Regions from separate parts of the Homo sapiens genome. Here region 1 is linked to region 2. The links come from fine-mapping of genetic effects on gene expression. A gene starts in region 2. The other region holds a variant in brackets. All regions are shown on one strand. Distances are from middle to middle. Region 1 overlaps NFAM1 (NFAT activating protein with ITAM motif 1). Region 2 holds the start of LINC01315 (long intergenic non-protein coding RNA 1315).

The links. PIP is the estimated chance that this variant, and not a neighbour inherited with it, causes the effect. A credible set is the group of variants that fine-mapping cannot tell apart.
Region 1: its variant is the best candidate, but not a certain one, in a credible set for the expression of LINC01315 in cerebellum (GTEx, PIP 0.87).

The regions. Positions count from the first base shown.
Region 1 is chr22:42,401,565-42,416,478 of GRCh38, reverse strand. NFAM1 (NFAT activating protein with ITAM motif 1) reads left to right here. Exons shown (of 6, transcript NM_145912.8): 2 at 4,743-5,072; 3 at 6,932-7,044. Among named protein-coding and RNA genes, the nearest start is that of NFAM1, 23 kb to the left of the region's middle. The variant T/C (reference allele first, on the strand shown) is at 6,558.
Region 2 is chr22:42,359,819-42,374,732 of GRCh38, reverse strand. LINC01315 (long intergenic non-protein coding RNA 1315) reads left to right here and starts at 5,525. Exons shown (of 2, transcript NR_120597.1): 1 at 5,525-5,675; 2 at 10,008-10,333. It overlaps LOC124905126 (a long non-coding RNA gene), which reads right to left and starts at 5,241. Exons shown (of 2, transcript XR_007068114.1): 1 at 5,029-5,241; 2 at 2,907-3,271. RefSeq lists a silencer at 5,329-5,488 and enhancers at 5,196-5,490, 5,859-5,978, 6,271-7,205, 8,590-9,432, 10,943-11,596.

The DNA.
Region 1 (14,914 bases), 42 kb before region 2:
TGCCCAGTGCCAATGTGAGCACCCCCTGCCATATCTGATGACAGCTTCCCAGCCTGGGTGCTGGCTCTTCTTCCTCAACACAGCCAGACCAACTGGGGTCCGAAGCCTGGCCCCACCACTCATGATCTCTGTGGTTTTGGGCCTTTAAGATCCTCTGCTTTTTGGTTTTGGTTTTGAGATGGGATTTCACTATGTGCTCAGGCTGGTCTCAAACTCCTGGGCTCAAGCGATCCTCCTGCTTCGACTTCCTGAGTAGCTGGAACTACAGGCGTGTGCCACCACTCCTAGCTAGACCCGCTCCAGAACGCGGTTGCAATAGTTGCCGCCTAGGATCGTCGTGGTGTTTAATTGACATAGGACCTGTGTCACACCAAGCCAGGATACAATTCCTGTAATTTTTCTTTTCCTTCTGTCTGTGGGTTCCTACTTCTGGGTCATGGACACCCTCTAGACCCCCGGGCCACAAACCCTGCACCCCAACCTCATCCCAGGCAAACTCAATGCTCCCCATACCAGCCCTTCTGCCTCAGGCTCTTTCTGCTCCTTCCCTTTTGGACTGGGGATGTTGCCACGGCAGGGAGCCCCTCCTGGTCTGGGACAGGGCCTGTGACCTAACTGGTACCCCTTCAATGTTTGTGGGAGGCACAAACAAATGACAGCTGAAAAGAATTTGTGGACTTGGAAATGACCGTGAAACCTATCAGCACTGTGCCTTCACGGGGGACCGCTTCTAGTTGGCAGCCAACTAGGGCCTAGACCTCTACAGCCTACACCCCTGAAGGGGCCTCTGGGAGGCACGGGTCCAGGAGATGGGGTGGGAGCTGGGCAGTTGCAGGATTCCAGCTCTGGGGTGCTGATGCCCCATTGAAAGGAAGGTGCAGGCCGGGCGCGGTGGCTCACGCCTGTAATCCCAGCACTTTGGGAGGCCGAGGTGGGCAGATCACGAGGTCAGGAGATTGAGACCATTCTGGCTAACACGGTGAAACCCCGTCTCTACTAAAAATACAAAAAATTAGCCAGGCATGGTGGCGGGTGCCTGTGGTCCCAGCTGCTCGGAAGGCTGAGGCAGGAGAATGGCGTGAACCCAGGAGGTAGAGTTTGCAGTGAGCTGAGATCGCGCCATCGCACTCCAGCCTGGGCGACAGAGCGAGACTCCATCTCAAAAAAAAAAAAAAAAAAAAAAAGAAAGAAAGAAAGAAAGGAAGGTGTAGGTGCAGGGGAGGTGGTGAGCTACATTCGCAGGCCAGAACCCAGAGGTCTTGGCTGTAACTGCGGACCTCCTCTCCTCCCCCGGGTTTTTTGGCCTGACGTCTCCAGACTGGACGTTGTTATTGACTGAGCTCGTCAGAGACGGCTTCCTCTCTTTACTTTTTGGACACAGCAGTTTCATCAGAGGTCTGAGGTTCTCGTTTCGAAGCCTCTCCTCGCTGTGGCTGATCTAAGCCAGAGCAGTGCATTGTCATGAGCCTAACTCGGTGACCTTAAAGAAATGAATCCCAAAAGAATATAGAACAACGGACGTCTGTTTTTATAGATTTCCCTGGAATTGTAAAGATCGGCTTAATTGCAGTAGCAGAGTTCATCATTTTCTAGAAGGATACCTCAGACAGGGAGAATTTTTAAAGAAATTGGTCTGAAGTCTTCCTGCCCAGGACAAGCAGGAAGGTTTCATGGTGCTGACAGTGTATCTGCCCTCCCCCTGGAGTGGCCTCTTAGATACACTGTGAGGAGGAGCAGGAGGCCCCGGGTGAGGATATGGAGGTCACAGGTCGAGGGGGCCACAGGGTAGGTACACAGAGGGGGCAGTGGCCTGTGAGTGCTGTGCAGGGCTGCTGGGCAGGGTCGGTGGTGATGTCATTTGTGGTTCACTCTACCCCTCTTGTCTCTAAAAAAAAATTTTTTTAATTTAAAAAAAAAAAAATTTGATGCCCAGGCTGGCCTTGAACTCCTGGCTTCAAGAGGTCCTTCTGCTTTGGCTCCTGAGTAGCTGGGATTACAGACACGCGCCACCATCCCAGCCCACCTGGGTCCCTGGGGGACAATATAACAGCCCCCATCTCTATATGCCTACCCTGCCCCTGTCCCATCTCGGATAAGTCCGTGCCCTGAAGCAAGGCTCTTAGTTTTATGACAAAATGAATGTAATGTTATCATTAAACAGCAGCAATCCTGCAGTAGAGTCCGGAGATACAAAGTCCAGGGTAAAATCCCCCCTGCTCCGTCCACCAGAGGGGAGCCCTGGAGGGGGCCCGGGTGCCAGCTCCCTGGAATGACATTTCACAAGCGAGTGTCGTTATGTCAATTACAAGTCGAACCCACTGTGACTGCCGACATGTGAGTCGATTCCCTGGAACTGTGAGTGCCTTTAGTTCTTTGAGGGAGGGTGTGTCTCTCTTTTTCTTTCTTTCTTCTTTTTGTTTTTTTTGAGACGAAGTCTTGCTCTGTCATTCAGGCTGGAGTGCAGTGGCGCGATCTTGGCTCACTGCAACCTCCACCTCCCAGATTCAAGCGATTTTCCTGCCTCAGCCTCCTGAGTAGCTGGGATTACAGGTGCCCACCACCACACCTGGCTAATATTTTTATTTTTAGTAGAGACGGGGTTTTGCCATGTTGGCCAAACTGATCTTGAACTCCTGACCTCAAGAGATCTGCCCACCTTGGCTTCCCAAAGTGCTGGGATTACGGGCATGAGCCAACAGCCCTGGCCAAATTTTTGTTGTTGTTGTTATTATTGTTGTTATATAGATGAGGGCTTTCTGTGTTGTCCAGGCTGGTCTCAAATGCCTGGCCTTGCCTTCTTATGTGACAGGACAACAGGCCTGAGCCACCGCGGCTCCTGATTTTTTTTTCTTTTTTTGTATTTTTAGTAGAGGCGGGGTTTCACCATGTTAGCCAGGCTGGTCTCGAACTCCAGGCCTCAAGCAATCCACCCGCCTCGGCCTCCCAAAGTGCTAGGATTACAGGCATGAGCCACCCTGCCCAGCCTGGGGGTGTCTCTTTAGTGGCTCAACAGGAAGCTCAAAATATCAGCATTGCCAGAATTTTGAGGGATTAACTGACGCACAGGGCCAACTCCATCTCTGTTCCCGCATCTTCCAGAAGGCTGGCCTCCCTTTGGGACCCCCTTCCCAGAGCTCTGGCTCAGAGCTGAACTGAAGAGACCTGGGAAGAGATGAGCCTGGCCTCCCTCCAGCCCCACACCACAGGCAGGGCCCACACCTCTCTTTCCCCAATAAAATAAATCTTGCGGCTCCTCTGAGCATCTCAAAGACACGATCTTCTCCCGATTAACAATCCGGCCTGCATGTTCTTGGCTGCTGGCTGCCGACCTCAATTTAGAACTGTCTGCTGCTCAGCTGCTGGAGAAGGAGGGGCCTGGAGAACCCAGGAGCGCTAAAGCCGAGGGGCCTGTGCAGCTGAAGTCTGGGGCAGGGGGCGGCTGCTGCCCCCAGCCCAGGATCCAAACAGCATCTCAGAGGCCTGCAGCAGGGGTTAGAGCCCCCCAGGCAGGGCTGCTGCTTTGGGAATTTTCAAACTGTTTTCTGAGGTGCCTCTGATGAGTGGGGGGAGGGGTGGCTCCTACAAAACTGGCTTTGTCATGGTCATTGACATCATGATCACAGCCGAAATGGCCCCACGTGGAGCACCTCTGCGTTGTTGGAAAAACTGCTCTCAGGATGTTGCCTGTTATACTGTAAAAAACCTGACAAATCCTCTCCGAGCCCAGAGTCCGGGAGAGGTTTGTGTCTCCCGCTGCCTGAATGCCTCCTTACTTTGGCACGGGGAGAACTGTGGGCAGACCTGCCTCCCTCTCTGTCTACCGCCAGGAAACGCTTGGGTTTCTTTATTTTGTTTTCCTGCCTCCTTCTTTATTTCTCATCCATCACCAGCTTTCTCTCTTCTCAGGCCTGTGCTTTGATCCCAGGTGGCCTCTTGGCCTTTGGGAAGAAGAGGGGTTGGGAGCGCAGGCTCTGGTGTTCCCCAGCCCTGGATGGGGTTGTAGCTCCACTCTCTACCTGCTGAGGAATCTGGAGCTAAGTGCTTCAACTCCCTGACCCTCAGACTCTTCTTCTTCATAAAACAGGGGCTCTCACTTTGCCTTGGGGTATATTAGGAGAGGTAGAGTGGTGTGCGTAATATGCTTGGCACAACTCCGGCACACAGCAAGTGCAGGAGAGGTAGGGGCTGCACCTGCAGAGGTAAGCTCACACGATGCACGAGACTTGTCTTTCTTTTTTTTTTTTCTGAGACGGACTCTTGCTCTTGTCGCCCAGGCTAGAGTGCAGTGGCATGATCTCTGCTCACTGCAACCTCAGCCTCCCAGGTTCAAGCGATTCTCCTGCGTCAGTCTCCCGAGTAGCTGGGATTACAGGCATACACTACCACACCTGGCTAATCTTTGTATTTTTAATAGAGACAGGTTTTGCCATGTTGGCCAGGCTGGTCTCAAACTCCTGACCTCAGGTGATCGGCCCACCTTAGCCTCCCAAAGTGCTGGGGTTATGGGCATAAAAAAGTTAGCCTGGCTAATTTTTGTATTTTTAGTAGAGACGGGGTTTCACCATGTTGGCCAGGCTAGTCTTGAACTCCTGACCTCCAGTGATCCGCCTGCCTCGGCCTCCCAAAGTGTTGGAATTACAGGTGTGAGCCACCGCACCCGGTCGTGAGCCTTAACAGGCAAGTGGGTGGGACTGAGGCAGCCTCAAGTGACCTGTTGCTCTCTCCCTTTGCTTCCCCTCCAGGAGGACAGTCAGTGACCCACACCGGCCTGCCCATCATGGCCTCCCTGGCCAACACAGCTATCTCCTTCAGCTGCAGGATCACCTATCCATACACTCCCCAATTCAAGGTTTTCACAGTCAGCTACTTTCATGAAGATCTCCAGGGACAGAGGAGCCCTAAGAAGCCAACAAACTGCCACCCTGGACTGGGCACAGAGAACCAGAGCCACACCCTGGACTGCCAGGTCACCCTTGTGCTGCCGGGAGCATCGGCCACTGGCACCTACTACTGCTCTGTCCACTGGCCACACTCCACGGTGAGAGGCAGCGGCACCTTCATCCTGGTCAGAGGTAAGGCTTCCTCTGTGGCTCTTCCAGGGCAAAGGACACAGAGGTTTCAAATGGCAGTTTGGGACTTTGGATCGGAAATAGAGAATGGGGCCAGGCGCAGTGGCTCACACATCCCAGCACTTTGGGAGGCTGAGGCGGGTGGATCACCTGAGGTCAGGGATTCGAGACCAGCCTGGCCAACATGGTGAAACCCCGTCTCTACTAAAAACACAAAAATTAGCTGGGCATGGTGGCAGGTGCCTGTAATCCCAGCTACTCAGGAGGCTGAGGCATAAGAATTTCTTGAACCCAGGATGGGAAGTTGCAGTGAGCCTAGATCGCACCATTGCACTCCAGCCTGGGTGACAAGAGCAAAACTCCATCTCAAAAAAAAAAAAAAAAAAAAAAGAAAAGAAAAGAAATAGAGAATGGTTTGCCTTGTCTACCAGCATTGGCAAAGCAGGCAGACCCACTTCAGGGAGCCCCGGCCTACGGCTGTGCCAGGGCTCCATCTGGGTGTGGAAAGGGCAGGGCCGGGCATGCAGATCTGCTCCTGAACGCCGCTGGCAGGTGACCTAAAAGAGCTCCCTTGGGCCCTTGGTCTCAGTGTGCCATGGGCATCATGGTGGGGGAACTTCTGCAGAACTAGGTATGTGCATGTATGTATTTGTGGGGGCCTCGTGTATGTGAGCACTTGGCTCATGTATAATACACCTTTCCAGAGACAGATCTTTAGTTTTCATCATGCTCTCTCTTTTTTTTTTTTTTTGAGACAGAGTCTCGCTCTGTCACCCAGGCTGAAGTGCACTGGCCCAATCTTGGCTCACTGCAATCTCTGCCTCCTGGGTTCAAGCGATTCTCATGCCTCAGCCTCCCAAGTACCTGGGATTACAGATGTCCACCACCACACCTGGCTACTTTTTGTATTTTTAATAGAGACAAGATTTCGCCATGTTGGCCAGGCTGGTCTCGAATCCTGACCTCAAGTGATCCGCCCACCTCAGCCTCCAAGAGTGTTGGGATTACAGGCATGAGCCAGCACACCCAGCCAGTTTTCATCACATTCTCAAAGGAGTGATGATCCCAAAAGTTATGAGTGAGCCCATCACCAAAGCCCTGATTCTCTGACCTACCTCTGCGATCCCCTGGAAGGAGCTGGGGGCTTCGGAATCCCATAGACCTGGGTTTGAACCTCTGTCCTGCTGCTTGCCCGATGTGATCTTGGGCCTGGTCTTCATGGCGATCCTCTGCCTTCCAAGGACTTGGATGAGGTTGAAGGAGATGGTGCCCATATGGGCTGGTGGCTGACAATAGGCAGTGCTGGGGAAATCATGCTCATGTGCCTGGCATGTGGTTGGCACTCCGTGTGTTTTTGCCAGTCGGATGGATGGATGGGGTGAGGGGAAGGAGGACTGGATGCCAGCAGGAGGGACTGGGGATGGCATGGGGTAGGAGGGCTGGGCCTCACCTAGCCTGGGTGCAGCCCCCTGTCAGTCCCAGGATAAA[T/C]CCGCCTCCTTCAGCCCTAGCCACATCCACCCGTATTATCACCACCTCACACAGGGAAAAGAAGAGGCCCCGAGAGGGGAGACATCTCGCTCAGGGCCCTACAAGCAGCCCACAGGGGAGCCAGGTCACGGGGGCAGGGGCACCGGAAGAGCAAATGGCCCCTGTCCTTACAGAGAAGCAAGGCAGTGAGCATGAAAAGGAGTGAGGGGACAATGAAGGCCCGAACCCTGGCTCCCAGGGGGCCTAGTGGGGTGTGGAGCGTGTTGGCGGGGTAGCATTGAAAACAGGGTCCTGAGTGAGGGAGAACATCAGGTGTGTGTGCCCCGCTTTCTCCTGGGTCACTGACCCCTCTGCTCCCCTGCGCTTCCTCCTAGACGCAGGGTACCGAGAGCCCCCGCAGAGTCCACAGAAGCTCCTGCTCTTTGGCTTCACCGGCCTCCTGAGTGTCCTGAGTGTAGTGGGCACGGCCCTGCTGCTCTGGAACAAGGTACGGGATCAGTGCTCACAGCCATGCAGCCCCTCCACCCGACACGCCACCGGCTGCCCGCCTGCCCTCTGCAGGGCGTTTGGTGGGCCCTGGTGAGGGCACATCCACATCTGTAACAGGTGGCCCTCGTGGCCCCTTGCACCAGGGCTGGGGGCATCCCTCCTGTGCCACTCCCTGTGCTGCCATGGGGTGCCTTTTGATCTTGTTGCAAGAAACCAGGGCTCTGCAGGCTTTCCCAGGTCCCATGTCCCTCTGAGAACCTGGGAGAGGCTGCAGGCCCTCCTGCCTACCATTTCTAGCTCCCCAGATTAGGGAATCCCTGCTCAGGTTTTCTTGATCCCAGCAGGCTGGAAGGGATGAAGGGGCTACCAGCCACTCACACAGGTGCTCTCCCACACACCCTCCCACTCGCCCTCTCGCACGCCCTCCAGCAACCCTCCCACACACCCTCCCACACACCCTCCCAAACACCCTCCAGCATAGCTCCATGACGAGGTTTTTTCCCATTTCACAGCTCTGGAAGGTCAGGCTCAGAGACGTTGTGATTTGCCCAGGGTCGCATAGTAAGTGTACTGCAGTCAGGGCTAGAGTGCAGGATGGGGTGGCTTGGTCCATTTCCTCACCTGGACGGCTCCTGCTCACACTGTGGGTGGCACCTGCCTGGGGAGGGAACCTCTCTGCTGGGGCTCCCCTCATGCTCATCATCACCCAGCCCTATGGATTCCTGTTCGATGCTGGCCCACCCTCCCTGCCTGGCAGCAAGTGCCAGGAGGCCAGAGGCCGAGGCAGTCTTGTTCAGGGGCTCCTTGCCCAGCACATGGTGGTGCTCAGACAGCATGCTGAGTGAAAGGATGCAGTGCCCAGCGGGTACCAGGTTCTCCCAGGCTCAGGGGTGCAAAGCTGATGGGTCAGGGCTCGTCAGAGGCTGCTGTTAGCAGCTCAGGCTACTGCTCCACCCTCCGGGGACCTTCGGGGCCAAGCCTGGGGGCAGCTGAGTCAGCAACAGCCCTGGGTGTGAGGCGTGAACACTGGCACCATCATTGGGGTCTCCCTGGGTCAAAAAAGGCTCAGCCCCTGCATCTGAAGGCCAAGACCCTACCCACACCCAGAGAAGAGCTCTCTTCCACGGGAATTTATGTGTTCATTCATTCAACAAACACTGAAAACCTACATTCCAGGCCCTGTTCTAGGCACCAGGGATACAGCAATGACCAAACTGAAATCAAGAAATCTCTATCTGAGGCTGAGCACGGTGGCTCATGCCTGTAATACCAGCACTTTGGGAGGCCGAGGTGGGTGGATCACTTGAGGTCAGGAGTTCGAGACCAGCCTGGCCAACATGGCAAAATCCCATCTCTACTAAAAATACAAAAATTAGCTGGGTGCATTGGCAGGTGCCTGTAATCCCAGAGGCTGAGGCAGGAGAATTGCTTGAACCTGCGAGGCGGAGGTTGTAGTGAGATTACACTACTGCACTTCAGCCTGGGTGACAAAGCAAGACTAAGTCTCAAAAAAAAAAAAAAAAAAAAAAGAGAAATCTGTCTGCCAGGTATGGTGGCTCACACCTGTAATTCCAGCACTTTAGAAGACTGAGGCAGGAGGATTTCCTGAGCTTAGGAGTTCAATATCAGCGTGGGTAACAGAGAGAGACCCCATCTCTACAAAACATTTTAAAAAATTAGCCAGTCATGGTAGCATGCACCTGTGGTCCTGGGCTACTTGGAAGGCTGAGGTGGAAGGATCGCTTGAGCCCAGGAGGTCAAAGCTGCAGTGAGCTGTGATCACACCACTGCACTCCAGCCTGAGCGACAGAGGGAGACCATCTCAAAAAAGAAAGAAAGTTTGAGACCAGCCTGACCCCCGTGGTGAAACCCCATCTCTACTAAAAATACAAAAACATTAGCCAGGTGTGGTGGTAGGCGCCTGTAATCCCAGCTACTTGGGAGGCTGAAGTGGGAGAATTGCTTGAACCCGGGAGGTGGAGGTTGCAGTGAGCTGAGATCACACCAGTGCACTCCAGCCTGGGCGACAGTCTCAAGAAAAATAAATAAAAGGCTGGGTGCGGTGGCTTATGCTTGTAATCCTGGCACTTTGGGAGGCCGAGACAGGCGGATCACTTGAGGCCAGGAGTTCAAGACTAGCTTGGCCAACATAGCAAAACCCCATCTCTACTAAAAATACAAAAACTAGCTGGGTATTGTGGCACATGCTTGTCATCCCAGCTACTCAGGAGGCTGAGGCAGGAGAATAGCTTGAACCCAGGAGGCAGAGATTTTAGTGAGTTGAGATGGCGCCACTGCACTCCAGCCCCTGGGCAACACAGCGAGACTCCATCTAAAAAAAAAAAAAAAAAGAGGAAGGTCCGGGTGCGGTGGCTCATGCCTGTAATCCCAGCACTTTGGGAGGCCGAGGCAGGCAGATCACAAGGTCAGGAGACCGAGACCATCCTGGCTAACACAGTGAAACCCTGTCTCTACTAAAGATACAAAAAATTAGCCGGGTGTGGTGGTCACACGCCTGTAGTCCCAGTTACTTAGAAGCCTGAGGCAAGAGAATCACCTAAACCTGGGAGGTGGAGGTTGCAGTGAGCCGAGATGGCACCACTGCACTCCAGCCTGGGCGACAGAGTGAGACTCTGTCTCAAAAAAAAAGGAAAAAGAAAAGAAAGGAAATCTGTTTTCATTAAATTGGCATTCCTGTTGAGGCGAGACCGACGATGCACCACCCAGTGAGTAGGTCGTATATATCAGATGGGATAATTATTGGGGGAAACTCAGCAATGTGAAGGGAGGTCGGCATGGGAATGGAGAAGCACCTGGAATGAGGGAGGCAGGTGCACATCAGGGCTGGGCGTGCCAGTGGGAGAATAGTGGATGCAGGTGCTCTGAGGCAGAAGCGGGCATGGGGTGTCCCAGGAGCTGCATGGGGGCCCATGTGGCTGGTGTAGCCTGAGCTCACAGAGAGTAGACGGATGGGAAGTGGAAGGAGATGCAGCCAGGTAGGGGGCATTGAAAGGACTTTAGCCCTTACTCTATGTGATACAAGGAAGGGGGTGAGATCAGACCTAGATTCTGATGGACCCTCTGTCTGAGTGAGGGACACCCAGTGAGGAGCTACTGCAAAGTCCAGGCAGAGATGACAGGAGCCGGGATCAGGGTGGCCTCAGGGAAGTGGTGAGCAAAGCAGATGAAAGGCTGGAAGCGGACCCAAAGGGACTCGCGCAAGTGGTTTGCTCTGCTCCCTCGGGGGGTGAGGCGCGAGCCGGGGGGTATTTGGATCTGCGCCTGCCCCGCAGGTGTCAGGTGAGCTGTGGACTGGAAGAGCAGGCGAGGAAGCTGAAGGTCAGAGCGTGCCTGAGCCAGAGCAAGTGGCAGGCCTGGGTCTGGAGCCCGTGCCTTAGTTTCCCATCCTTGTCTTGAGGCTGGGGATGTCATCGCTTTTCCAAGAAGGCTCTGAGGTACGAAAAAAGCATGAGCTTGGCGCCTTTCACCCCCGGGAGCCCCAGGGGCTGCATTTCCTGCCTTCTGTGAGCCAACGTCTGGGTCAGGGCCTCAGCCACGATGCTGGCTCCCCTCCTTCCCATGGGTCTGACACTGGCGCGAATGGTCCTACTTTGACCTTGCCCTGTTAATGAGCTTCAGGGTGAAGTGAGTCGCAGGCCTTGGGTACCACTGTGAAGTCCAGGAGGGCTCTGTGCTCCGCCTTGACTCCAGCCCAGCCAGAGGGATGAGCTGAGCCAAGAAGACCCGAGATGGGTGGGAAACACTTCCTTCAGCTTTCATGAGCCCAGGGTTAGGATGGAGACCCACTGGCTTCAGGCTGCCTCCCTCCCCAAGCCAGCACGAGTATGCACCTGCCATGTGCCCGGCCTGGGCCTTTCTTGCACGCCCCCGACTCTCGCCCTCAATATATGCCCTCCCTCCCTGCTTCGGCTTTTCCCATGATGATAGCAAGTAGGGTATCTCTCGATTTGTTCACTACCGAGCAGTCCCCAGGCACTCGAAATGAGGCCAGGGGAGGAGCTGGGGCGTGGACACAGAAACTGGGCTTCAGGCACAGGTGACAAGGGACTCCCCCCGCCTGCGGACCCCCACCCAGGCTTACAGGAGTGACCCACACAAGTGCCCTCTGTGTACACGAAACACAGTAGGCAAGGAACAGAACGGGGCCAGGCGAGATCTTAACCTTGAGCCCCCCATTTGCTGAGCAACGTCAGCTCCTGCCCTACAAAGATGGGACCGGACCGTAGAAACTGGATCACAGTATTAGTAAAGGAGGGGACAAAGCTCAGAGCCCTGGGCTTGAGTTCTGGTCCCTGCTCCCTCCCCTCCAGGATGGCCTCAGTGACTCCTGCCTTCCTCTTCCTCCTCTCACCACCCTGCCTGTGCTTCCAGGAATGTCTGCAAAGTGTCTCGTGTGTGCCATCACTAGGCTAAGTGCCAACAGGGTGAAAGCAAGCCCTCTTGTCAGGTTTGGATCCTCTCTGAGCCTCAGTTTCCTCCTCTGGAAATGGGATAAGGAGGGTAGACCCTGCCCACTAAGTGAACATGGAAGGAGAGCACTTTTTTTTTTTTTTTTTTTTGAGATGGAGTTTTACTCTTTGCCTAGGCTGGAGTACAATGGTGCGACCTTGACTCACTGCACCTCCGCCTCTCAGATTCAAGTGATTCTCCTGCCTCAGCCTCCCAAGTAGCTGGGATTACAGACGTGCGATACCACGCCTGGCTAATTTTGTATTTTTAGTAGAGACTGGGTTTCACCATGTTGGCCAGGCTGGTCTCAAACTCCTGACATCAGGAGATCTGCAGGAGAGCACTTCTGAAGCACCAGTTGGGTGCCTGACACACAGCAGAAGCTTTCTGCTGCCCACACACCCTCTGTACCTGGGGAGAACGGCTGATGTGAGAGCCTGGGCTGGAAGGGAAAGAGAACCCGGAGGCCAGAGCAGCTGCTGCGTTTGCATTGCTAAAGCAGCCCTGGGAGCCCCTGGTTCGCTGTGGATGCCCCTGATGGCAGCGGCAGGATGGGGTAAGGAGAGAGTCCAGGAGAAAGAGGCTCCCTCCAGGCACAGAGGACCCGGGAGCACCTGCAGTGGTGGATAAATGAATTGAAGCTGGAAACTACCAACCAGAAGTGGCAGAGGGTGGACCCGAACCGCGGTTGGCAGCTTTGGGGACAGTGAGGACAAAGAGCAGAGTGTGCGACTCCACTGGGGCAAGTCTGGAAGAATGGCATTGCCTCCCGGGGCAATGCCTGCACCTGACTTCTGCAAAGGCCAGCAGGGAGGGCACGGAGCTCACACCCCCGGGAAGATGGGAGCTGGAGGGTGGTAAGAACTGGTGATGCATGAAGTCTGCCCGGAGGGGCTGGGGCAGGAGGGATGGGGGTAGAGCCCAGGAATGGATGACCCACAGGTGGCACAGTCAGCCCTGCCCGCAGGCCCTTCAACAGCAGAGGCTTCCCAGGCCCTCCTTGTTCTCTGTATTTCGGCACCTGGGATCCCTCCCAGAGATCTCCTTCTTTGCTTTCTGGATCCAGCTCCCATGTACCCAGCTCAGAGAGGCCCTCTCTGACACCATGGCTTTCTTCCCTGACACCTCTTTTGCCTCTGCCCTCGTCATCTGTAGGTCCCCTGAGCTTACTCCATCTCTTCGTCAAGGCCAGCTGTGTGAGGCCGGGTGCCTCTCGGCCTGTTCCCTGCCCAAGCCCCAGCCTCTAGCACAGGTCCCCTGACATAGTAGGCCCTCAATAAACATTTGCTGAAGGGCTTACCATTTATAGGGCCCTTTCACACCTGTCATTAAATTCATTCATTCAGGCTGGGTACAGTGGCTCACGCCTATAATCCCAGCACTTTGGGAGGCTCAGGTTGGCTGATCACCTGAGGTCGGGAGTTCAAGACCAGCCTGGCCAACATGGCAAACCCCCACCTGTACTAAAAATACAAATTAGCCGAGAGGCGGAGGTTGCAATGAGCCGAGATTGCACCACTGCACTCCAGCCTGGGCGACAGAGCTGAGCACCTACTATGTGTCAGGCCCTGTACAGAGGCTGGGAACACAGCAAGCTAAACTCTTAGCTGGGGAGATCAGCTGTTATGCTGTCATGACCTGTTCAGGAAGAAAGGAAGTAGAAATCAGCAGGGGGCTTAAAAGCACAGAGTTGGGCCTTCGTTCAGTTCCAGCTCTGCCACTTACCAACCTCTGCGAGCTTGAGCTGGGTGCTCCAGGCTTCGGTTTCCCCAGTGGGGATGCCAAACAGAGGAGCTGTGTCATGGGGTTGTAGAAGGCACAGAGGGGGCCGGGCGTGGTGGCTCACGACTATAATCCCAACACTTTGGGAGTCCGAGGTGGGTGGTCACAAGGTCAGGAGTTCAAGATCAGCCTGGCCAAGATGGTGAAACCCTGTCTCTACTAAAAATACAAAAAAAAAATTAGCCGGGCATGGTGGTAGGCTCCTGTAATCCCAGTTACTCGGGAGGCTGAGGCAGAGAATTGCTTAAACCTGGGAGGCGGAGGATGCAGTGAGCCTGGATTGCGCTACTGCACTCCAGCCTGGGTGACAGAGCAAAACTCCATCTCAAAAAAAAAAAAAAAAAAAAAAGAAGGCACAGAGGGACCGGTGTGGGTCTGAGGCGCTTTGAGTACCAGGAGAGGTCTCTCTCTTGAGAAGGCAGCAATCGCCATGATTCCTGCCATGAGAGTAGGTTTGGGGGCTCCTGCCTGACTTGAGGGGTCAAAGTGGTGTTCCCAGAGCAGGCGCTCCCTGCGGCTGGCCCGTCCTCATCCTCATCCTCTCATGGCATTGGGCACAGCAGGCCTCCCGCCTCACAGCACACTCCGCCTCTTGGTACCAGGACAACATGCCCTCCTTGTTCTGTCCCACCCCATAGGCAGCTTTGCTGGGTCACCCCCCTCTTGGTGACCTCTAAATTCTGGCACATCCCGGGCCCCTTCCTCCGAGCCCTTCCGCGCTCTGTGTGTGCTCCTGCAGCAAAGTTTCTGCTCTGCGGGTGGCATTCCCTGTCCACAGATGCTGCTGCTCAGACCCCTCCCCAAGCTCCAGACCATGGTCCACAGCCCCACGTGGGGGCCTGAGGGTGCCGCCACCTCATGCGTCCAGAGCAGTGCTCAGTCCCCGAGTCCTCTGCGTCCCAGCACACGTGCTCCAGATGCTCAGGCCCAAGCCTTGGAGTTGTGCTCGGCTCTTCTCTCTCCCCACATCCATCCCTCAGCAAGCCCTGCACTCAGTCTGTCCCGGATCCAGCCCCTTCCCCGGGGCTTCCTAGGCGTCCCAGGCTGGGCTCCATCACCCTCTCCTGGAATATAGGTCTCTGCTGCCACACCCTGGCTTCTGTCACAACCTGGCGTCTGTCTTTATGCTGTCTGTCCTGCCATAGCATAGCCCCTGTAGGCGGGGGACTTAGTGTCCCCAGCACCTGGGGGAGCCTGGCACGCAGTGCATGCTTGTGGAAGGAATGACAGGATAAATGCATGCGAGGACCTGGAAGATAAGGCAGAAGTGGCCAGGATGTGAGGTGGGCAAGGCCACATTATTGCTCCCATTTTACAGAGCAGGAAGCTGAGGCCCAACAGGCTTCCTGAGCTGCTGATGGCAGCACCCCTGGTGTGCACAGCTGGATCTCAGCCCAGGCCTGGTGACTCCCTGTCCCACCACCATCTACTAGGGAGGGGAGACTTGGACCACAGAGAGCTGGGCGTGTTGGGAGAAGCCACACTCGTGATTCATCTGAAAATCACAGTTGAAAGGCAAATGTTGGCCCCGAGGACAGAGCGCTCAGTGGGCAGGGATGGGCAGGGAGCAAAGCAGCCCCACCCCCATAATGTAATGTGAGTTTTCAAGAAGGCTC
Region 2 (14,914 bases):
TGCAGTTGAGATTCAGGCCCCAGCAGTGGCTTCAGAATCCATGATCTGAACCACTTTGGTTGGTGGCTTTCTGTGGTAGCCTGAAGAATCCCACCCTCGCCAAGATATCCACATCCTAATCCTGGAACCTGTGAATGTTACCTTATATGACAAAGGCGCCGCAGATGTGATTAAGGATCTGGAGATGAGGAGGTTATCCTGGATCATTACAATCACAAACGCCCTTATAAAGGGGGATGCAGAGGGAGATTACAGACCAAAGGCAGAAGGTGGTGTGATGATGGAAGCAGAGAAAGAGGTCTGAAGATGGTACGCCGCTGGTTTTGAACATGGAAGAAGAGGCCACAGCCGGGGAACAGAGCCCCAGAAGCAGGAGAGGGCAAGGAAACGGATACTCCTCAAAGCTTCTGGAGGGAACGTGGCCCTGTGAACACCCTGGTTTCTGCCTGTTGAAACTGATTCTGAATTTCCGGTCTTGAGAACTGTAAGAAAATAAATGTGTGTCGTGTTGTGGGTTTTTAAAAAATAATTTTTTTCTTTCTTTTTTCTCCCGGCTTTTCAATAGGGATAACGTGTGTTGTTTTAAGTCACCAGGTTTGTGGTGATTAGTTACAGCAGCCATAGAAAATGAAGACACTGGCCAGGCTCACGCCTGTAATCCCAGCACTTTGGGAGGCTGAGGGCAGGTGGATCACCTGAAGTCAGGAGTTTGAGACCAGCCTGGCCAACATGGCGAAACCTGTCTCTACTAAAAATAGAAAAATTAGCTGGGTGTAGTGGTGCATGCCTGTAGTCCCAGTACTCAGGAGGCTGAGGCAGGAGAATCGCTTGAACCTGGGAGATGGCGGTTGCAATGAGCCAAGATTGCGCCATTGCACTCCAGCCTGGGCGACAGAGCAAGACTCCGTCTCAAGGAAAAAAAAAGAAAAGAAAATGAAGACACTTTCCCTCCTAGAAGAGCCTATTCTGCCTCCCAGGCTGGGCCCCTCTCTGAGAGGCTCTTCTGCCCCGAGGTCAGTGGCCCACCCTGTTTTGTGCTCCTTGGGGATGCTTCCTATGACCTCTGACCCTGGAGCTTGCCTCGGTCATGACCTCCATGCTCACCCTGACCTTGGGCCTCTTCTACGGCTCCCAGCACTGACTTCACCAGGCTGGAGTCATCTTCCAGTTGTTCAGGGGCAGGCACCAGCTCTGGGGCAGTGTGGAAGAGGAAAGTGAGGCTTGGAGGGGGGCACTGAATGCTCAAGATCACTCAGCTGGCAAGAGGCAGAGCCGCTGAATGTGTGGCCATGAGATGACCAGGGCACCCAAGCCGAAGGGCTCGTGAGGAAAGAGGCCACACTGGCTGCCCACTGCCCCTAGGTTCCAATCCCGGCACCCATCTGGGCCCACATAGAATTGGACCATTCCTGGTGGGCTTGGCTTTAGGAAAACCTGATAGCAAATTCCAAACCAATAAGAGCAAATAAATGAGGGGTGATTACCGACAATAAGAGAGGATACACTGCAGGGTGCCTCCAAATCGCATCTCCTCCAGTACGTTTTAAGTGCTTTATAGGTCATTAACTACTTGACAGAGAGAGCCTGACACTTAAAGCAAAGAATTTGGTACCTCTGCCAGGGAAAATCAATCAGAAATGAAGCTAGAGCATCAGAGGCGTTAAGATTTACTGGGTAGGCCAACGGGATTCAATTGACGCAGAATTTTAAGACCCTCTCCACTGTGTAAAGTAAGGCACACTGGTATTTGAAGCCATTTATAAATCCCAAACTAGAATTTAGAAACACTTAACCTCTCCCCTGCCATTTTTGTGTGTGTGTGGATGTTAATGAAATATTTCGAAGACATGGAAAAGTACAGAGATAAGCTTAAGCATCTAAGTCCCCCATCTGACTCTGTCAAATGAAATATTGCAGCTATGTGCAGCTATGATTGAAGCACCCACTATTTTTTTTTTTTTTTTTTTTGAGATGGAGTCTCTGTCTGTCGCCTGGGCTGGAGTGCAATGGTGCAATCTTGGCTCACTGCAACCGCAGCCTCCCAGGTTCAAGCGATTCTCTTGCCTCAGCCTCTCAAGTAGCTGGGACTACAGGTGCGTGCCACCATACCCAGCTAATTTTTGTATTTTTAGTAGAGACAGGGTTTCACCATGTTGGCCAGGCTGGTCTCGAACTCCTGAGCTCAGGTGATCCACCCACATCGGCCTCCCAGAGCGCTGGGATTACAGGTGTGAGCCACTGTGCGCAGCCAACAGGTGCACCTCTAGAAAGAGGGTGCTTCGGATGGGCACAGTGGCTCATGCCTGTGGTCCCAGCACTTTGGGAGGCTGAGGAGGGAGGATCACCTGAGGTCAGGAGCTCGAGACCAGCCTGGCCAACATAGTGAAACCCTGTCTCTACTAAAAATACAAAAATGAGCTGGGTGTGGTGGTGCATGCCTGTAGTCTCAGCTACTAGGGAGGCTGAGGCAGGAGAATTGCTTGAACCCAGGAGGCGGAGGTTGCAGTGAGCGGAGATCGTGCCACTGCACTCCAGCCTGGCAGCAGAGTGAGACTCTGTCTAAAAAAAAAAAAATTGGTGGGGCATGGGGGCATGCACCTGTAGTCCCAGCTACTTGGGAGGCTGAAGCAGGAGAATCACTTGAACCTGGGAGGTGGAGGTTGCAGTGGACCAACATTGCACTACTGCACTCTAGCCTGAGAGACAGAGCGAGACTCCGTTTCAAAAAAAAAAAAAAAGTGCACCTGTTTTTTCTTCCTGGCTTTTCAAATCCTTTCTGTCTTCTGGCTCTGCCTTGTCAGGGAGACCTAAGCTGACCACCCACCCCTGCCCAAGACATCACTCCTTCCTCTGAAATCAGAGTGCAATTACTGCCTCTTTAATTAGCTTGGCAATTAATCACCAGCTGCTTATGAAACAGCTTTTATTGTCCTTGTCCATCTTGGGATGTGGGTGGGAATGAGGACCAGGCAGGAAGAGGGAGGAGGGGCAGGCAGGCAGGGCCCTGCTCTGGCACCAGGCTGGGCAGGGTCAGCTGAAAAGGCCTGATGTCCAGAGGGTCGGCTGCCTCCCAACTCTGTTTCCACAGCTGCTAGGCACCAGGATCTGTGTAGTCCCAAGAGAACAGTGGGCAGCGACAGGGACATCCACCTTGTGCAGCCCTGGGGCCTCTGCTCTCGATGTTCCCTACTAATCAAAATGTTCTTTCCTCATTGAGCCTTGTTGAACTGTGTCCCCCAGAAAGATATATTGAAGTCCTGACCGCCGATACCTGTGAATGCAACCTGATTAGGAAATAGGGTCTTTGCAAATGTAATCTTCTTAAGATGAGGTCATACCGGATTAGGATGGGGCCTAAATCTAATGACTGATGTCCCTATAAGAAGGCCATGTGAAGACAGATGCAGGGAGCACTCATTCACCACACCACCAAGCCAGCTCCTCCTCTTCATGCCTCAATCTGGCTGCCTATGGGAGACAGGCTCTCAGCATTTTTCTAGTTGATTAACCCTTCTCTGCCCAACTCCGGGAGAAGCTTCTACACCTTCCTTTGTCAGAGGAAGCCCTCTCCCCCATCCCATCTCATACATCATCTCTCAATCAAAAGGACCTACTTGGGGGGGCATCCCAAGGACCCCCTCTCCATCAGAGAACAGCAGCCGGGAAGTCAGTCTGCTTCACGGTGCTCCCCATGACTTCCACAGGAAAATCCACCCCAAATGCCCCAAACTGTCAGAGTGGGCAATGCAGCATGGTTTGAGCAGAGTGCTTCCAACTTCCCCTGTGATGGGGGTGCAGAGGGGGGTTCAGGGGATGGATTCCCAGGAAGGGAAAGAGCCCAGCAGGTTACCAGGAATTTAACATGGAAGCAGAGGCTGTGTCATTCATACTGCCAAGCACAGTGCTGGGTATAGCATGTTCAAGCATGTTCATTTAAATGACACTTTTTTTTTTTGAGACAGAGTTTCGCTCTTATCACCCAGGCTGGAGTGCCAGTGGCATGACCTCAGCTCACTACAACCTCTGCCTCCTGGGTTCAAGTGATTCTCCTGCCCCAGCCTCCCGAGTAGCTGGGATTACAGGTGCCCACCAGCATGCTCAGCTAATTTTTGTATTTTTTAGTAGAGATGGGGTTTCATGATGTTGGCCAGGCTGGTCTCGAACTCCTGACCTCAGGTGATCCACCCACCTCGGCTTCCCAAAGTGCTGGGATTACAGGCGTGAGCCACTGTGCCCGGCCGAAGTAAGTTTTTTTGTTTTTGTTTTTGTTTTGTTTTGAGATGGAGTCTCACTCTGTCACCCAGGCTGGAATGCAGTGGTGCCATCTCGGCTTACTGCAAGCTCCGCCTCCCGGGTTCACGCCATTCTCTTGCCTCAGCTTCCCGAGTAGCTAGCTGGGACTACAGGTGCCCACCACCACGCCAGGCTAATTTTTTGTATTTTTAGTAGAGACGGGTTTTTTTTTTTTTCTGTCACCCAGGCTGGAGTGCAAGTGGTACAATCATAACACTGCAGCTTCCAACTCCTGGGCTCAAGTGATCCTCCCACCTCAGCCTCCCAAGTAGCTGGGAGTACAGGTGCACACCACCATGCCCAGAAAACTTCTTAATTTTTTTTTTGTAGAGACGGGGTTTCGCCATGTTGCCCAGGCTGGTTTCGAACTCCTGGGCGCAAGCGCTTCTCCCACCCTGGCCTCCCAAAGTGCTAGAATTATAGGCGTGAGCCACAGGACCTGGCAGTAATAACCCATCTTCTAACCTATCTTGTGCTCTAACACAACACTCTTGATAGACGGGAAACTGAGCTCTGACACTGCACAGGGCATCACTGTGTAGAGGATCCGAGATCCAGTAATGTAAGCATGTCCCAGCATCAGCTCAGCCATTCATCCCCACGTGACCGAATTTCGCTGCACCTCGGTTTCCTCATCCTCGGGAGAGAATAGTAATATCTCCTAGGGATGTTGCCAACATTAAAGATAGCTCTAAACACCTGTATGCATATTTTCCACGAATTCATTCAACTAACCGTTTTGAGCACGTACTGTGTGCTAGGCCCTGGGGAGACAGTGGTGAGCAGCACGAACCCCATGTCCCTATCTCCAGGTGCTGTTTGGTAGAGAAGGACAAGGAAATGCAGGTAGCGTTATGATAGGGACCACGGAAGCAGAGAGGAAAAGGCCGCAGAGTTCAGGAAGGTCCGAAAGAGCAGCGGCCACCGCCGGAGCGAAAAGGCAAAGAATGAAATCCACAAACCCCCACCCCTACGGCCTTAGTCCCTTCTTTGTCTCAGCCAATCAGACGTCAGCAGTGCTGGCCGACCGACCAATCAAGAGCTGGAACAGGAGCCCTAGTCTCAGGCCCGGTTTCCGCGGGGAGGGCGGCCGGAACCAGCGCGCCCCGCCCCTGCCCCGACCACGCCCCGCCCGCCCCGGTCCGGCCCCTCCCCAGACCACGCCCCGCTGCAGCCAGCTTCGCCCGCCCAGAGCCCCGTGGCCAGCGGCCGGCCGCGGGGCCTTTTTGTCCTGAGGGCCAGAGAAAGGGAGAAGGGGGTGGGGGGACAGCCACGTGGCCGCAGGAGGATTTACAACATTTTCTTTCGCCATCGATGTTATCGCAAAATGTGTGAGAGAAGCGGCTGCGCAGCCCGGACGGGAGCGTGAGGGTGCGGGCCAGGTAAGCAGCCCCGGCGGTTTCGCCGCATACGGGACTGCGGGGCGACCGCGGGCACCAGCCACGCGCAGCGGCTCCGCGGGGTCTCGGCCGGGTCCGCGCTCTGAAGGATCTCGAGAGCCATGGATGGTGCAGGCGGGACCCTCGAGCTGCAGCATCTCCGGTGACCCGGGGTTGCCGAGGAGGTGGAGACCAGCACAGGTGGTCCGGCCCGGGCGCCTCCGAATCCGGGGGTGGTCAAGACGGATCCCCAAGGCTGAGGTCGGCAGTCCCGGGGACTCGCAGCTGTTGAGCCTGTGGAGACGCGGCCCCGTGACCGAGGCACCCTTCAGCAACCCGGGGGCAGGTGAGACCGTGTAGACTTGCGCTTGCGGTTGAACCGCGAGCAGGTGTAGACGCGGGCGGGTTCTGGACGCGGAAAGTTTGCCAGAGCGCGCTGAGCGGGCTGGCGGGGAGGAAGGGTCTGGGCGTAGGCGGAGCCGCGCCTCCGAGGGGCCAGGCGCACATCTGGGGCGGGGACGGGACCCACCTGTCGGGTCTCAGCCGCATCCCAGGGCGGAAGCTCCTTGGGCGAACTCCAAACTCCAGCCTCAGCGGCTGGAATTCGGGTGCCCCCCTTCCTCGGGAGCTGGAGAAACTGCAGCTGAGGCGGGAGAGGGATTTGGGGCGACAGAGCGAGACCAAAGGGGGCTCATTTTGAGACTTTTAGACGGGATCATCAAGCGCTCACTCTGTCCCTGGCTCCGGGGAAGCCTGGGGAGTCTCCACCTCACTTGTGAGGAAGCTGAGGGACGAAGAGGCCAATTTGGCACCCGTCCCACGCTCGTAATCAGACCCAGGGACTCAAACCCCATTTGTCCTGGCTCCTCTTCTTCCACCTCCGCCTCAGTGAGGAGAAAGGGTGCTAGCCATGGGGGTAGTGCAGGTGAGACCTGGGGCTGGGATGCAGGGAAGCCCTGGATTGAGACCTTCGGATCTGCTGGGGGTGGATCCCACTCCCTCTCTGTAGCTCCAGGTGGCCCCGCAGCACTGGGTGAGAGAATGAACGCAGGAGGGAAGCTGGTGGCAGAGTACTGGGCAGGGGGTGCTAGTGCCCACCTGCTTTGTGTCCGGGGTGCTGTGCCTGGAGCGCTTCGGGTGGGGCAGCGTATTTATGCGACACTCTCTCCTCTAGGGTAAGAAAGACACCCTACCACAGTCTCTGCCACAGGGGAAGGGCAGAAGGGTTTCCCTTGGCTGGAGGAGATACCCGCATTTCTAGGGAGGTTCTTAGGGAGGCACAGCCTCATCTCCCATCACCTTCTGTCCCTTTGCCCCCGTTCCTACTCCCACATCCTCCTGTCCTGGGATTTCCCCTACTACAAAGCCTTTTGCACATGTTGTTTATTCTTTTGATCAGCAAATAGTTACAAATAGGCAGTGTAGACCACCACAGGTGGTCCGGCACACCTACTAAGTGCCGGGCATGCGCAATTCAGCAGTGACTAAGACAGGCCCGGCCTCTGCCCTCATAGGGCTTCCAGACCAGGGCAGGGATATAGATGAACAACAGACAGTCAAGAAGGGGACCAGGGTATGGGGAGGGGAGGCGACCTTAGGAGGATATCAGAGAGGGACTCTGCAAGGATGACAGTGAGTCAGAGCAATTAACACTCCTCATCCTTTGGGCCCCAGCACAAATGTCACCTCCTCCAGGAAGCCTGCCCTGACCTCCCTGACTTGATGATTCCACTATGATGGACTCTCATAGCATGGGACCACCCCCTCCATGGACACTTTTATGCCATTAATTGGTCAATGTTTAGCTCCCCCTGTCGATTGTAAGTGCCATGAGGGCAGGACCCAAATCTTTTCTGGGTGGATGGTAGGCAAAGCAAATAAAAGATGGGTAGGATTTCCCCAGAAAAACAGGAGTGGCTCAGCAAGGTCAGGCATCCAGATGGCAGAAACTTTTCTTTCCCCTTCCCTGGCCCGAGTCCTGGGCTCCACACCCCATTTGCCGTTCACAGAAACAAAGTAAAAGAAACCAGCAGGCCTTGTGAAGGGAGAGGCCTGGCACAGCCTGACCACTGCAGTGCCAAGGCTGGCTGGCTGCAGGGAGAGTGGACCTGCCAGGGGAGGCCCAGGGCAGGCGCTAGTCCTGTTCCCTGAGCTCAGACCGACCTGTCTCCTCTTTCTTCTGTCCCATCTCTTGGAGACTTGTCTTCTTCAAGTGCTGCTCTGGGAGAAGGTGGTGGCCGACAGGGCCCCCAGAGTAGCTGGGATATAGGACCACAGTGACTGCCTGGCCTCCCCCATCCTGGTGGGCAGGGCCCTGGGCAGCACAGCTCTGACCCAGAGTCAGGTCTCTGGGCCAGCAATTGCTGCTCAGTTGACCCACGGCACATTGAAACTCTCACTTGGAAATTAGGAACCCGGCTCAGGGGGACTGATTTTTTTTTTTTTTTTTTTTTTTTTGCATGGTTTCTATACACAGTGAATCCTCCCTCCCCTGGCTCCATTGGACCCGTGTGCCTGGCACTTTTCCTGGGGCAGATGAAGCCCTCGCAGATGCCTAACAAAGCTTTTCTCCAGTCTCCCACACCCCCCACTGCCCCACTTCAGGAGCTCTGAGTGGCCGCCACGCACAGCTAGAGAGACAGTCAACTTGCTTTATTCAGGCTCTGGCGGGGACAGAATAAAAGCAGCCTCCCCACCCACCCACCTGGCCAGCAAGCCTCCTGCCTGGAATGGCTTTAAAAAAATTAATTTGCAATGATTTGCTCCCTTCTGTTCTGTGGGGATCACCAGCATTTTAAATATGTATTTAGATCAGATTCACAACTCCCAGTTAAACCTCAACTGCCTGCCCCCACCCGGCAGAAAGAACACAGGATTCAGAATCAGGTGACTAGAAGTTCAGGCCAAGTTCTGCTAATGATGCGCTGTGTGGCCTTGGGCAAATTACTTAAGCTCTCTGTGCCTCCACTGGCTCCTCTGGAAACTGAGGTTAAGGATAACCCCTCCCTCACAGAGTGCTGCGAGGATTAAATTAGGTAAGTTTAGGGAAGACCTGGGCAGTGCCAGACCTATGTTTTCTTTTCCCTTGTACTGACTGTCCTGCTAATTAGCCTGGTGACCCTGGGCAGGCCACTCAGCCACCCCTGGCCTCAATGTCCTCATCTGTAAAGGCTGGGGGTGGGGATTGTGGTAGGAGATGAGGGCACAAATACCCCACCCTCAGCCCCTTCCGCACACCCACTTCCTCCTGCCCTCTCCCCACCAGAGACGATACTGTCCCCCTCAACCACTTCTTTCTTGTTATCTGAGCACTGGGTTTTAATTGGCGATGGCCCCTCCCCAGCTGCCTCTCCTCCCGGCTCCCTGTGAAGTCTCAGGCTTGCAGCCCTGAGGGGCCTGCAGTTCCTGGCTCATTGTCAGGGGCAATTAGCTGTGATGTCACAAGCCTAGGTGGTGACTTCCGTGGGGCAGATGCTTAGCCAGGCACCAGGAGGCCAGGACCCTGCTCCATCTGTGACCTGCGGGGCTCCCCCAGGCTCCAGGGGTCCCCATTACCAGTCGCAGGGAGGCAGGGCTCCTAGGCAAAGCCATTTCCATTTCTGCACTTGATGGCTCCTTGAAGCCCAGCCTGCGTGTAAATGAGTTCCACCCTGTGCTTTTGTTGGCAACTGTCGGCTCCCTGGAAGCAAGGGGCTTTGTCAGGAAGAACAAAGCTGTGCGGTGTTTTTCTGATTTGGGGGAAAGCGTGCTCCTGGGGGAGGGCTCAGCGCTTCTCAGTGTCGGTCTCCAGCCCTGGTTCTCAGACTTGCTGGTTTTGTTTTGGGTTCTTAAGTCCTATGGCTTAAGAGTCACATATGTTTGTGTGTGTGTTGGCTGAGGGTTTTTTTTTTTTTTTCCTCCTTTTTGGCTTACATAGCGTTCCAGAGACTGAACTTCTCAAATCACTGCTTCAACAGCTTTTAAAAATCTGGACCTAGTTACTCCTGTCATCTATGTGTAAAGATTTAGAAAAAAAATCCCAAACCCAAGGGTGGGCAGCCGCGAGGATGTACAGCTCCTGGCAGTGTGCGCTCACCCGGAGACCTGAGGTCAAAGCCCAAATGCTGAGCACCTCCTGGGAGGCGGGAGCATGGTCTGCTCAGTGCCAGACATCTGGATATTGAGAAAACATCTGGGTAGCTGGGGTTTTCAGGTTTCTGCCTGACATTTAATATCACAAACATTGAGCCTGCTCCTGTCCCCCACCAGCCACGCGGCTTCTCCTCCCAAACATACCCAGCTCCTTCCCCTGCCTTCCTGACGGGTAAGAAACATCCATTCTTTCCAATTCCCCAGCGTTTTCCCCCTACCGGAAATCTGATGGGCTTATGACATCATGGCTGGCTGCTGAGCGATGAAGTGGATGCCACAAAGAAATCCGACATATCAGATAGATTCTGAAATCGGTTTCCCTCCAGCTGTAGTAACAGGCGTGAAGTCAGGAGAATTTGAGCTTTGTTTAAAAAATAAATAAATAAATAAATAAACCATAACAAAGTCTTGCCCTGTATTAAATGCAATTTTCTTAAAAACAAGCAAACCTTTTGGACATCATTTTATTTTAATAGAAATGCTGAGTTTTATGAAACTAAAGTGGCTAATAAATCAGACCTGAAGCTTTGTGTGAGTGTTCCATTTCTGTTGAGTGTTTGTGTCCTTATTCACTAATAAAAGAGGAGCTAGGAATGGTTTATCTCTCTTCATTATTCAAATGAGATAGCCTTTTTTTTTTTTTTAGGCCAATAAAATTCACAGGGTAAATTGCTGGTTTATGTTTTTCCAGGAATCCATTTTTATGGAGCGACCCTGGACCTCACCGGTCTGCAGACACTATATTCCCCTTTGCTGGTTTTCCTGGCTGTGAAGCCCTTAAGAGAATGCAGTAAAGCTTTTCAGTCTCCTGGCTGGGCTCAGGGGATAACTGGCTGTCAGCAGGGCGGGACCAAGACCAGTGGGCCAGGCGCTTCTTGGAATGAGAAGCCTCTTTGAAAGGAGAGAGTCAAGAGAGGAACAGAAGTAAAGGGACCTGGGGCTGGGCGCGGTGGCTCATGCCTATAGTCCCAGCAATTTGGGAGGCCAAGAGGGCAGATCACCTGAGGTCAGGAGTTCAAGACCAGCCTGGCCAACATGGCGAAACCCCATCTCTACTAAAAATACAAAAAATTAGCCAGGAGTGGTGGTGCACGCCTGTAACCCCAGCTACTTGGGAGGCTGAGATAGGAGAACTGCTTGAACACGGGAGGCAGAGGTTCCAGTGAGCCGAGATCGCGCCACTGCACTCCAGCCTGGGTGACAGAGCAAGACTCCATCTCAAAAAAAAAAAAAAAAAGAAGAAGAAGAAGAAGAAAAAGTAAAGGGACCTGGGACATGAAGCCTAGGGGCCTGGGAGGGGGAATCCATTTTCTTCCTCCTCAAAAGACAGCAAGGACCTCAGAAATAACTCCAGGCTGAGGGGGCCTCAGTATTCACCTCGGAAATAGGCTTGGGTGCAAGATTGCATGTGTCGTGCCTGCCAAGCACCCAGCACAGGGACGTCCCAGACCTGGGCTGAGGTCCCAGCTGCTCCAGAAGCAAACTTCGGGGCCCTGAGCAAGTCACACCACCTTTCAGCTTCTTTCCCTGAAAGTGGACACAATGGCCCCCACCCTGCCTGTTGGGAGAACAGTAGTGCTGGATGTGTCACACAATGCCCAGCTCTGAGGGCATCCGAGGCTCTGAGGGCACCTCAAAGGGCTCCGAGGCCATTCTCATAGCTGGGAGAGGCCAGTGTGGATTCTGGAGTTGAATCCCCAGCCTGGGCTTGACTCCTGGCTCTGTCCCCTGCTATCTGCAAGACGACATTGATCTGTGTGACATTCGCTGTGCCTTGGTGTCCTCACTTGTCAAACAATAATAATAATAGGACCGGCCTCACACATGAGGCTGCTGTGAGGATGAACGGCCTCAGAAGGCCTGGACTGACCAAGCATTAGCCGCATGAGTGTGTCCTGGGCCCAGGAGGCAGGTTGCTGGCTAGGACCCTCCGGCCTAGGATGGGAGGGAGTGTACCAAGTCGAGCACAGGCGGAGGCTAATCAAGGACTGACAGGAACATCTACTCCTTTCTCTGCAGAACTTCCCATGACTCCAATCGCCCAAAGGGAATAAAATCCCCTCGTTTTCTGGGCCCCAGGCTCCTGTCCCCCAGGCCTCCTGTGCTGTTCCCCTCTCCCTCCCTGTGCTCTGTCCCTCCTCCCAGGCAGCTTTGGATGCAATGCTAACAGGCAGGTGATGTTTACTGAGCACCTGCCATCATGTTGTTCGCCACAGTTTCCATGGATTAATTCATTTGATCCCCACACAAACCCATGAAAGGGGACAGTTAGCATTCCTGTCAGCAATGGAGACCTCAGAGGTTAAGTGTCTTGCTCACAGTCCCAGAGCCCAAATTGAAACCAGGGTTCGGCTCCTGCACCGTCCACTTCACCTCGGCTCCACTGGGCCTTCCTCCTCCACTTTCTCGCCTTCCCACAACACCCATCTCCACCTGCCAAGATTTCCACCACCTCGCCCAAGAGGTCTTCCCAGCTTCCCCTCCACAGTGCCACCCAAGAAATGCTGGTGGTGCCCCACGTGCCCCTCAGGGTGTGGCTCTCTATGATTGGCCCTGGGCCCCTTGTCTGCCTCTCCTGGAGGCTGGGAGCTGGGCTGTGGCCAGTAATGTGTCCCCTGCAGGCCCAATAAGCAGGCATTTACTGAGGACCTACTATGTGCAGGACATGGGGAGTCATACAGCAGGTGCCCACACCGCCTGGACTTCTCTCCCAAAACCTAGACCTATCCAGCCAACAGCTTGTGCCACCTCTCCACGTGGATGGCCAGTGGGCAGCTCTGCCTCAACTAGTCACAAACCTCTCACCTCCACTTTCCCTTCACTTGCTCAGGCCAAAAGCCTTGGGATTATTCCTGACCCTTAACTTCTCCTCTGTCTCTATCTCAGCACTCCACCCTTCCTTCCACCTCCACCGCACCACCGGCATTGCCTGCCTGGATGGCACAGCAGCCTCCTCGTGGGTCTCCCTGCCTCCTCTGCCCTCTGGAATTCATTCTTCACATAGTAGCAGAGTGGTCCTGTTAGAACTTCAGTCAGCTCCTGCATGCCTCTGCCCAGAGCTCTGCAATGACTCCCATGCATTCAGGGTCAGGGAGGGCCCTGTCAGTGGCCCCAGCTTGTTCCCTCTCAGACCTCAGCTCCTGCCCCCCAACTCGCTCCCAGATCTTGTTATTCCTCCAACGTGCTGTGTGTGGTCCTGCCCCAGGGCCTTTGCACGTGCTGCTCCCGCTCCCCAGTATACTCTTTCCTCTGATATTTCCATCACTCCCGCATTCACTTCCTCCAGTGCTCCGATCAGATGTTACCTGTGGCCGGGCACCGTGGCTCATGCCTGTAATCCCAGCATTTTGGGAGACGTGGGCAGGAGTATCGCTTGAGCCCAGAAGTTTCAGACCAGCCTGAGCAACATGGCGAGACCCCTTCTCTACAAAAAATAAAAATCAGCTGGGCGTGGTGGTGTGCGCTTATAGACCCAGCTACTCTGGAGGCTGAGGTAGCTGAGGTAGGAGGATCACTGGAGCCCCAGCCTAGGTGACAGAGCAAATACCCTGTCTCTAAAAAAAAAAAGACCAGGCACAGTGGCTCACACCTGTAATCCCAGCACTTTGAGAGGCTGAGGCGGGCAGATCACCTGAGGTCAGGAGGTCAGGAGTTCGAGACCAGCCTGGCCAATATTGTGAAACCCCATCTCTACTAAAAAAAGACAAATACAGAAATTGGCCGGGCAGAGTGGCACATGCCTGTAGTCCCAGCTACTCAGGAGGCTGAGGCAGAAGAATTGCTTGAACCTGGGAGGCGAAGGTTGCAGTGAGCCAAGATTGTGCCACTGCACTCCAGCCTGCCAACAGAGAGAGACTCCATCTCAAAAAAAAAAAAAAAAAAAATGACCTGCTCAGACAGACCTTCCCTTATGACCCTCCCCATCCTTTCCCCATGTTTTTTTTTTTTTTTTGAGACAGAGTCTCACTCTGTCGCCCAGGCTGGAGTGCAGTGGTGAGATCTCAGCTCACTGCAGCCTCCGCCTCCCGGATTCAAGTAATTCTCACGCCTCAGCCTCCTGAGTAGCTGGGATTACAGGCACCTGCCACCATGCCCAGCTAAGTTTTGTATTTTTTAGTAGAAACAGGGGATCACCTGAGGTCATGGTGAAACCATGTTTCACCGTGACTCCTGACCTCAGGTGATCTGCCTGCCTCAGCCAAAGTGCTGGGATTACAGGTGTGAGCCACCATGCCTGGCCCTTCCCCCAGTCTTTGCCCTCTAGCATCTATGCCACTGGCCCTTGGCTTGGACATGTGCATACGTGTCACTAGAATGTCACCTGAGTCAGAGCGGGCCCTGCCTGTTTTCCCACTGCTGTATCTCAGGTCTCCAACACAGGGCAGGTGCTCAATAAACATTTGCTGAATGAAACGATAGCTGGATGGGTGCCGTGCAGAGACGGCCAGTATCGAACACCTGGTCTGCGCCAGGATCTGTGTTGGGTGCTGAGGCAACATGTGTAAACAAGTGCCCTGAGAGCCCTCATCTGGGGAAGGAGAGAGACTCTGAGCTAGAAATCACAAAGTGGGTGGAGTGGGGGTGGCCTCCGGGAATGGGCTCAGAAGAGGAGGTGGTCTAGCCGATCAGAGGGAGCTCCCCCAAGGAGGGGCATCCCCAGGTGAGCTGAAGGGTGAAGAGGAATTGGATGGGGAGGCGGGTCGGGTGGACAGTGTGCTCTAGGGGCTAAGGACAGGGCTGGGAGGACAGCAAGAGTAGGGGCCTTAAAGGTCAGTAAGATCCAGCTGGGCAGAGAGAGGGCACCGTAACCCCAGATCGGGATTATGGAGTGGGCAAAGGCCCCGAGGTGGGGATGTGCTGGGCATGTGTGTGGGGATGGATTGGGGAAGGCTTAAGTGCCAGGAGGAGCAGCAGAGGCCTGGGGTGGAATCTTAGCTCTCATCCTCCAGCTGCGTGATCCTGCACACATCGCTCCCTCTCTCTGGGCCTCAGTTGCCCCATCAGTGTACTCCTGATCACGTACATGCTTCCCCGCTGCAGTGTCCTGCCTCACAAAGAGGGAGAGACTTAAGCCTGGAAGGCCCCAGGGGAAGAGAAGTCTGCCAGGAACA